Homo sapiens: one gene and its partner. The protein of the gene in region 1 purifies or fractionates together with the protein of each later gene. This does not show direct contact. Each region holds a gene or a part of one and is shown on either strand. Other genes may lie near its edges. The genes, in order: SLCO2A1 and ACBD3.

What was found.
Region 2: the proteins of SLCO2A1 (region 1) and ACBD3 purify together in Homo sapiens (affinity purification with mass spectrometry; one large-scale study listed by BioGRID and IntAct). This does not show direct contact.

The regions. Positions count from the first base shown.
Region 1 is NC_000003.12:133,949,650-133,953,475, reverse strand, and holds part of SLCO2A1 (solute carrier organic anion transporter family member 2A1), read left to right. Parts: intron 1-2,131; coding exon 2,132-2,268; intron 2,269-3,826.
Region 2 is NC_000001.11:226,144,114-226,146,721, reverse strand, and holds the end of ACBD3 (Golgi resident protein GCP60), read left to right. Parts: coding exon 1-112; 3' UTR 113-2,043; downstream 2,044-2,608. UniProt on the Homo sapiens protein: Involved in the maintenance of Golgi structure by interacting with giantin, affecting protein transport between the endoplasmic reticulum and Golgi. Involved in hormone-induced steroid biosynthesis in testicular Leydig cells.

The DNA of each region.
Region 1 (3,826 bases):
GGCCCACGCTGGCCACTGTGAGGAACAAGCTGCTGAAGCAAACTCACTTTCTGCCCTTAAGAAGTTTGGAGACCCAGGGCAGGACCTCAGGTGTTGCCACCACAGCGCCCATCTTGGTGGCATTAAAAATATTTCTATGGGCTGGGTGCGGTGGCTCAAGCCTGTAATCCCAGCACTTTGGGAGGCTGAGGCGGGTGGATCACGAGGTCAGGAGATCAAGACCACCCTGGCTAACACGGTGAAACCCCGTCTCTACTAAAAATACAAAAAAATTAGCCGGGCGTGGTGGCAGATGCCTGTAGTCCCAGCTACTTAGGAGGCTGAGGCAGAAGAATGGCGTGAACCTGGGAGGCAGAGCTTGCAGTGAGCCGAGATCATGCCACTGCACTCCAGCCTGGGCGACAGAGTGAGACTCTGTCTGAAAGAAAAAAAAAAAATTCTATGGTTCTTTGATTCTAAGATGTTGCTGGTTCTTTAAGATTTAATAAGAGCTCTTTTGAGGAAAAAAAAGAAACATCATATAAAATATACACACGGATGATGACTCACATCCAGAGGGTATAACATGGTGTTTGACTGTGTGGGCGCTGGGACGGGACTGCCTGGGTCTCATCCTGGCTCCATCTCTTACTAGCCAAGTGATCTTAGGCAAGTAACTTTGTCTTTCTGTGCCTCAGCTTCCTCATCTGTAAAATGGAGCTAATGATAGTAAAATAAAGTTGTTTTAAAGATCAGAACAAGCCTAATGTATATTAAGAAGTCAACAGTATGAGTTCGTATTCTTCAACAAGTGGTATGGATGAGAATATATAGTCCCTAGACACCAGCATAAGTTCTGAGTTAACCATTCAGGGAGCCAGCCCCAGGATGAATGGAGCAAGGGCTTCCTGCCTTTGAGAGTGTGTCCCACACTACCCAGTCTCCCACAAGATGGGGAAGGTCAGCACCACAACAGAGGGACAGGCAAAGTGCTGTAGGGTGGAGAATGTGGGGAGTGTGTGGGTGGGATACGAAGTTCCAGCTCGGCTGAAGGGGTGGCTGAAAGGCAGGACTGAGCCAGACTCCAGGAAGAGCACTCCCACCACTGCCCTGCAAACAAGTCACGTCACAGATATCTGGCAGGTGCTAGTTGCAACCATGCTGCTAGAGCCTAGACTCCCGTCCCTAAGACTGTCAGACCACAGTGCCATCTGCATGGTGTCATTTGGCTGTACTTCCAATGAAAGTAGAAAGCCAGGGGGTGTCTTATGCCTCAGGATCAAGCCATCCCTGTCCTTTTGCTGGCACTCCCCGAATTGGTTCCTGGCTCTTGGTTGCCCAAAGAGACCAGCAACTGAGTGCCCAGTCCACTCAGGGCAGTGCCCAGGGAAGCTTGTCATGATTTGACTGAACCGTTCTGCCACCTTCTCCTTCCCTTTATGCCCGGATAGTTTCTTTACACAGAGAAACACAATGGCAGACTTTTACACGTGTGCAAGAGAATTGCCAAGAGAAAGCTGCTCCTTTGGAAGCCAGGCAGTTCACACAGTTGATGGTTGTTTCTTTAGGCTTCTAAGGATTATGGGGCCTCCTTTGTTAGGGATCCATAAAGTTGGGAGGCAGTAGTTTAATGGTTAAGAGGGCAGGTTTGCATACCAGGGAGACACAGGCTTGAAATTGACCAATGAAATGGCACTTACTAGCCTTTACCTGAGGCAAGGGACTTAACCCCTTCTATCCTCAGTTTCTTGACTGGTGAGAGGTGGGCAGACTTGCTAGAGAACCCAGTGGAAAACAGATGGAAAGCACGTGGTCTAGAGTCTGGCCCATGGTGTGCCCTTGTGAGTGAGAGTCAGCTCCCTTCTTCACTACTTCTGCCAAGGGCTGGGAGTTGAATAAGGAGGTGAAGGTACTGCTCCCTCCTGCCCGGGGATTTTCTGATGCTGTGCTTCATGTGCAGTGGCCTTGGTCCTCTGGGAAGACCAATAGCTGGGAGAGGGAATGTTGTTTTGACCAAGAATCTAGCTCATGGCTTGCCTCTTCTGCATCCTGGGAAGAAAATCAGTGAAACTCCCCCTGATCAGAGGTTCTGTTTCCAGTAAGGTGAGATCATGCATTCAACAAACATTTGCACTCTTCGTTTTCTCTTCAGCTGCAGTTAACTTGGTCCCGGGTGACCCCCGATGGATTGGAGCCTGGTGGCTAGGCCTGCTCATTTCTTCAGCTTTATTGGTTCTCACCTCTTTCCCCTTTTTTTTCTTCCCTCGAGCAATGCCCATAGGAGCAAAGGTAAGGTTCCAAGAGCCCATGACTCTACCTGATGGAGTTGAAGAAAGGGATGTGGGGGTAGAAAATAAATAGAGCTAAAAAGCTGCAGCATGTTAAGCAAATTCAGGGTGAAATCTAAACAAATTTCATGATGCAGGACTTCCCAGAGGCTTTAAGAGGTGAGGGTGTTGGTGAATTTCCAAAAGGTGGTATCTCCTATGTGTTCCCGTACCATGTTAGCATGTCAAGGATCAGGAGACCTCCAGGGAACAGTTTGGGAAACACTGAGCTTATCTAAATTGAGCTAAAGAATTAAGAGCCAATAAAGGCCAAGTCTGCGACCTGGTACAGTCAACTTTTACATTTAATAGGGCCTATCAGTGTTCAGTGTTTGAACCTGAAAAACTGAGTAGGAAGGGATTCCTAGCATTGAACAGTGTTGAGGGTGGCTGAAATTGGAGCATATTTTGAGCAGAGGACCTTCCAAGCATCTTCCAGTCACGCCTGCTGGGGAAAGGAATCAGGGAAGGATGAGAACGGAGAGCAAGGAAGAGAAGTCTGGGTAGGGGCTTGATGTTCAGCTGAAGGGTCTAAAGATTGTTCTAATTCCATGAAGTTCTAGAGCACTGCAGTGACTGGGTGGCCACTTGGGTGGCAATATGGCAGCTAGGTTGAGTTTAGGGGGTAGGGAAGGAATGGAGGCTGGAGATCTGAAGAGGCCAGTGCAGAGACCAGGTGAGAGATGGGGAATGCAGCAATGGTTGTCGGAGAGCTGGGACAGGGCAAAGATAAGGATAGACATTCCTAGGGTGGATGCCCAGAAGGACTCAGCAGTGAGCTGGCTTGGAGGAGAAGAAGGAGCTAAAGTTTATGCCTAGGCTTCAAGTCCCAAAATAGAGCTCAATGTTTGACAATGAGGTATATAAAATCTAGGCCCAGCCGGGGGGAGAGGGGCAGGGGTGGGAGGACCTCAGCTTGTCTTGGGGAAGAATTTCAGACGTTGGCTACACATCATGCAGGTGCTGGGGTCAGGCAGACCTGGGTTTGAATGAAGCTCTGCTACTTATAAACCAGCTGAGTTGGCCAGGTGTATAATCTCACACTTTAGGAGGCCAAGGCAGGAGGATTGCTTGAGCCCAGGTTGAGATTGGTGGGTAGGGAAGGAATGAAGTTCAAGACCACCCTGGGCAACATAGCGAGACCCCATCTCTAAAAAAAAAATTATTTTAAAAACTTAGCTCAGCATGGTGTTGAGTGCATGTAGTCCCACCTACTTGGGAGGCTGAGGTGGGAGAATCACTTGAGCCCAGGAGTTCGAGGCTGCAGTGAGCTATGACTGCACCACTGCACACCAGCTTGGGTGACAGAGTGAGACCCTGTCTCTAAAAAAATAAAAATAAAAAATAAAAAACAATGAACTAGCTGAGTGAGCTTCGCCAAGTTTCTTTGTTCCTAAGCTTCCTCTTCTTTACAGTGCTCCAGCTAATTAGAGTAGCAGTATGGGAAAGCGTTGTGAGGAATGAGACAAAGCATATGAATACTGGGCACAGGTCCAGCAGGGAGTAAGCACTCAGTGAAT
Region 2 (2,608 bases), on another chromosome or scaffold:
TGCTGGCAGCCATCAATATCCAGGGAGAGGAGTCTATCTCCTCAAGTTTGACAACTCCTACTCTTTGTGGCGGTCAAAATCAGTCTACTACAGAGTCTATTATACTAGATAAAAATGTTGTTACAAAGTCTGGAGTCTAGGGTTGGGCAGAAGATGACATTTAATTTGGAAATTTCTTTTTACTTTTGTGGAGCATTAGAGTCACAGTTTACCTTATTGATATTGGTCTGATGGTTTGTGAACTCTTGCTGGGAATCAAAATTTCCTTGAGACTCTTTAGCATTCATACTTTGGGGTTAAAGGAGATTCCTCAGACTCATCCAGCCCTTGGGTGCTGACCAGCAGAGTCACTAGTGGATGCTGAAGTTACATGAGCTACATGTTAAATATTTAAAGTCTCCAAAATAAAACACCCCAACGTTGACCTTACCCGGCTGATGGTTAGCCCCTTGCTGCCTGCTCCATGTGTCTTATGAGAGCCCGTAGTTACAGTGTCCTCTAATTTGAAATCCATAAGTTAACAAGTCTATATCAGGTGCAGCTGGCTTTGATTAAAGGCCATTTTTAAAACTTAAAAACTCAACACCTCACAGATTATAATAGAAAAAGAAATGGCCTCAGTTTGATCTCGTTCAGAATGACCCAGATTGTTTCTGCTTTGGGTGCAGCTGTTTAGTTCAGAGTTATATTACAGAGAATTATTTTCTGAGATAATCTTAAACTAGAATGTTCAAAACTAATTGATAATTGAAGTATCAAGATACGTAGAACACCTCAGAGATTTTTCTTCAGGAACTTCCACAAACTTTGAATCCTTGTATCTTTATTTGGTATTCATACTACTAGTAGCAAAATACAGGTTTTTTGTTTTGTTTTGTTTTGTTTTGGCTTCATAGAGTATCTCAAATTGAAACTTTTCTGCACAAAGAATAAAATTAAGGATTTTATAAACTCAAATTGGCACCTACTGAATTAAAATACATAAAATCATTTAAATATAATTCAGCATATGGGAAGTAACATTGCACTAATATGGAAATCACTGCCAGAGACAGTCTATTTTCTTTTAATTTGTTACTACTTAGTCACAAACCCCACATTATTCCAGTTTGGAATTACTTATTAAGGAGAATTGGAAATACATATGCCCATGCTTAAATTTTATAGCTTTAATTTGTGTTATTTCTTTATTGACGGGAAGAGGTACATCTTTTTTTCCTTACTGAAAACAAATATGGATTAATTGCCTCAAATTTGTATAAGTGATTGGCTAGTGATTCTTGTTTTCAGAAGGGAGAGTGGTATAGATAGAAAATGACAAAGATGGCAATATACACTTAATGTTGTTATTGTATGTTGTTACTGAAGTACTTAGATTTTTAAAATTTCAAATCCTAAATCACTTCTTGTAGGAGGGTTTTCATTAACTGCAGTATATACAGTTCACTACATATGGGTTGTTTGAGTTTTTTGTGTGCTGTATTTCTTTCTGTTTTTTAATACCTGGTTTTGTACATATCTAACTCTGTTCTCTTTTGGTTGTTCAGAAACTGGATTTTTTTTTTCTTAAGCAGTGCTTAATTTGTGTTTTTTAATTTTGATTCAGAAGTAGTCCCAGCTCATAGGTGTTCATACTGTTACATCCAGAACATTTGTCAGGCTCTCTGTCAGCTTTCATGTACATATGGTATAGAAACCATGGAGTTAGGCACTTCCTGGATTTTTTTTTTATGAGAAAAATACTGTATTTAAAATGTAAAATAAACTTTTAAAAAGCAGGCACTAATATATATTTCTTCCAGCCTTTGATTACAAATTTGTCCTTGCACATGTTAAGATGAATTATCTCCTAAAAATATCATTGTTCTTGGGAGCAGTGTATGTTACTTTACATAGCAGCGGTTCCTGTCATGTGTTCATGTCAGAATATTTTTGGTTTTAAACTTTCTTATTGCCTTTGGCTGTTGATTAGTACAGTACAAGTGCGATTTCAAAAAGATCTTGAAAGTAATATATTTAATCAATTAAAATGTTTATCTGTAACTTGTTGATGTTTCATTAATATAGTTACTCTCTGAAGCATTAGTACAGTATTTCAACATTTGGGTAGGAGAAAAAGAAATGTTTCAAACATCTTTTTTGTTTTAAAAGGCTCTAGTTGAAAAACAACTCTTTCTGGCCAATTATTTAGTTTTACTATTAATTACCTTAGTGAGTTAAAATAGATTTAAATTTTTCCACACTTTTAAATGCAAAGGCTAGCACTGATTTTTCTTATTGAAAATGACTAGGTTATAAAGTTGTTTCTCTACACTACCATGTATGTAGTGTGTTCCATTAAATATGTGGACCCCACACACTTTAATGGATCTCCAGAGGCAGAGCCCTCGCTTGCTCAGGGTGGATGATTGCAGAGCACTTGTGGGGAAGTGCGCGATCAGTGTGATGTGGAGTCCCAGAATGAGGTTGCTACATCCAGATGACCCCACTGATAGGCAGGGTGACTGGCATAATTTTTTTCTTTTGAAATCTGGGGAGACAGATGAGGTGACCATCTTGGTTATTTTTGCTGTGTGGGATACCATAAAGCCAGACTGAAGACGCATTA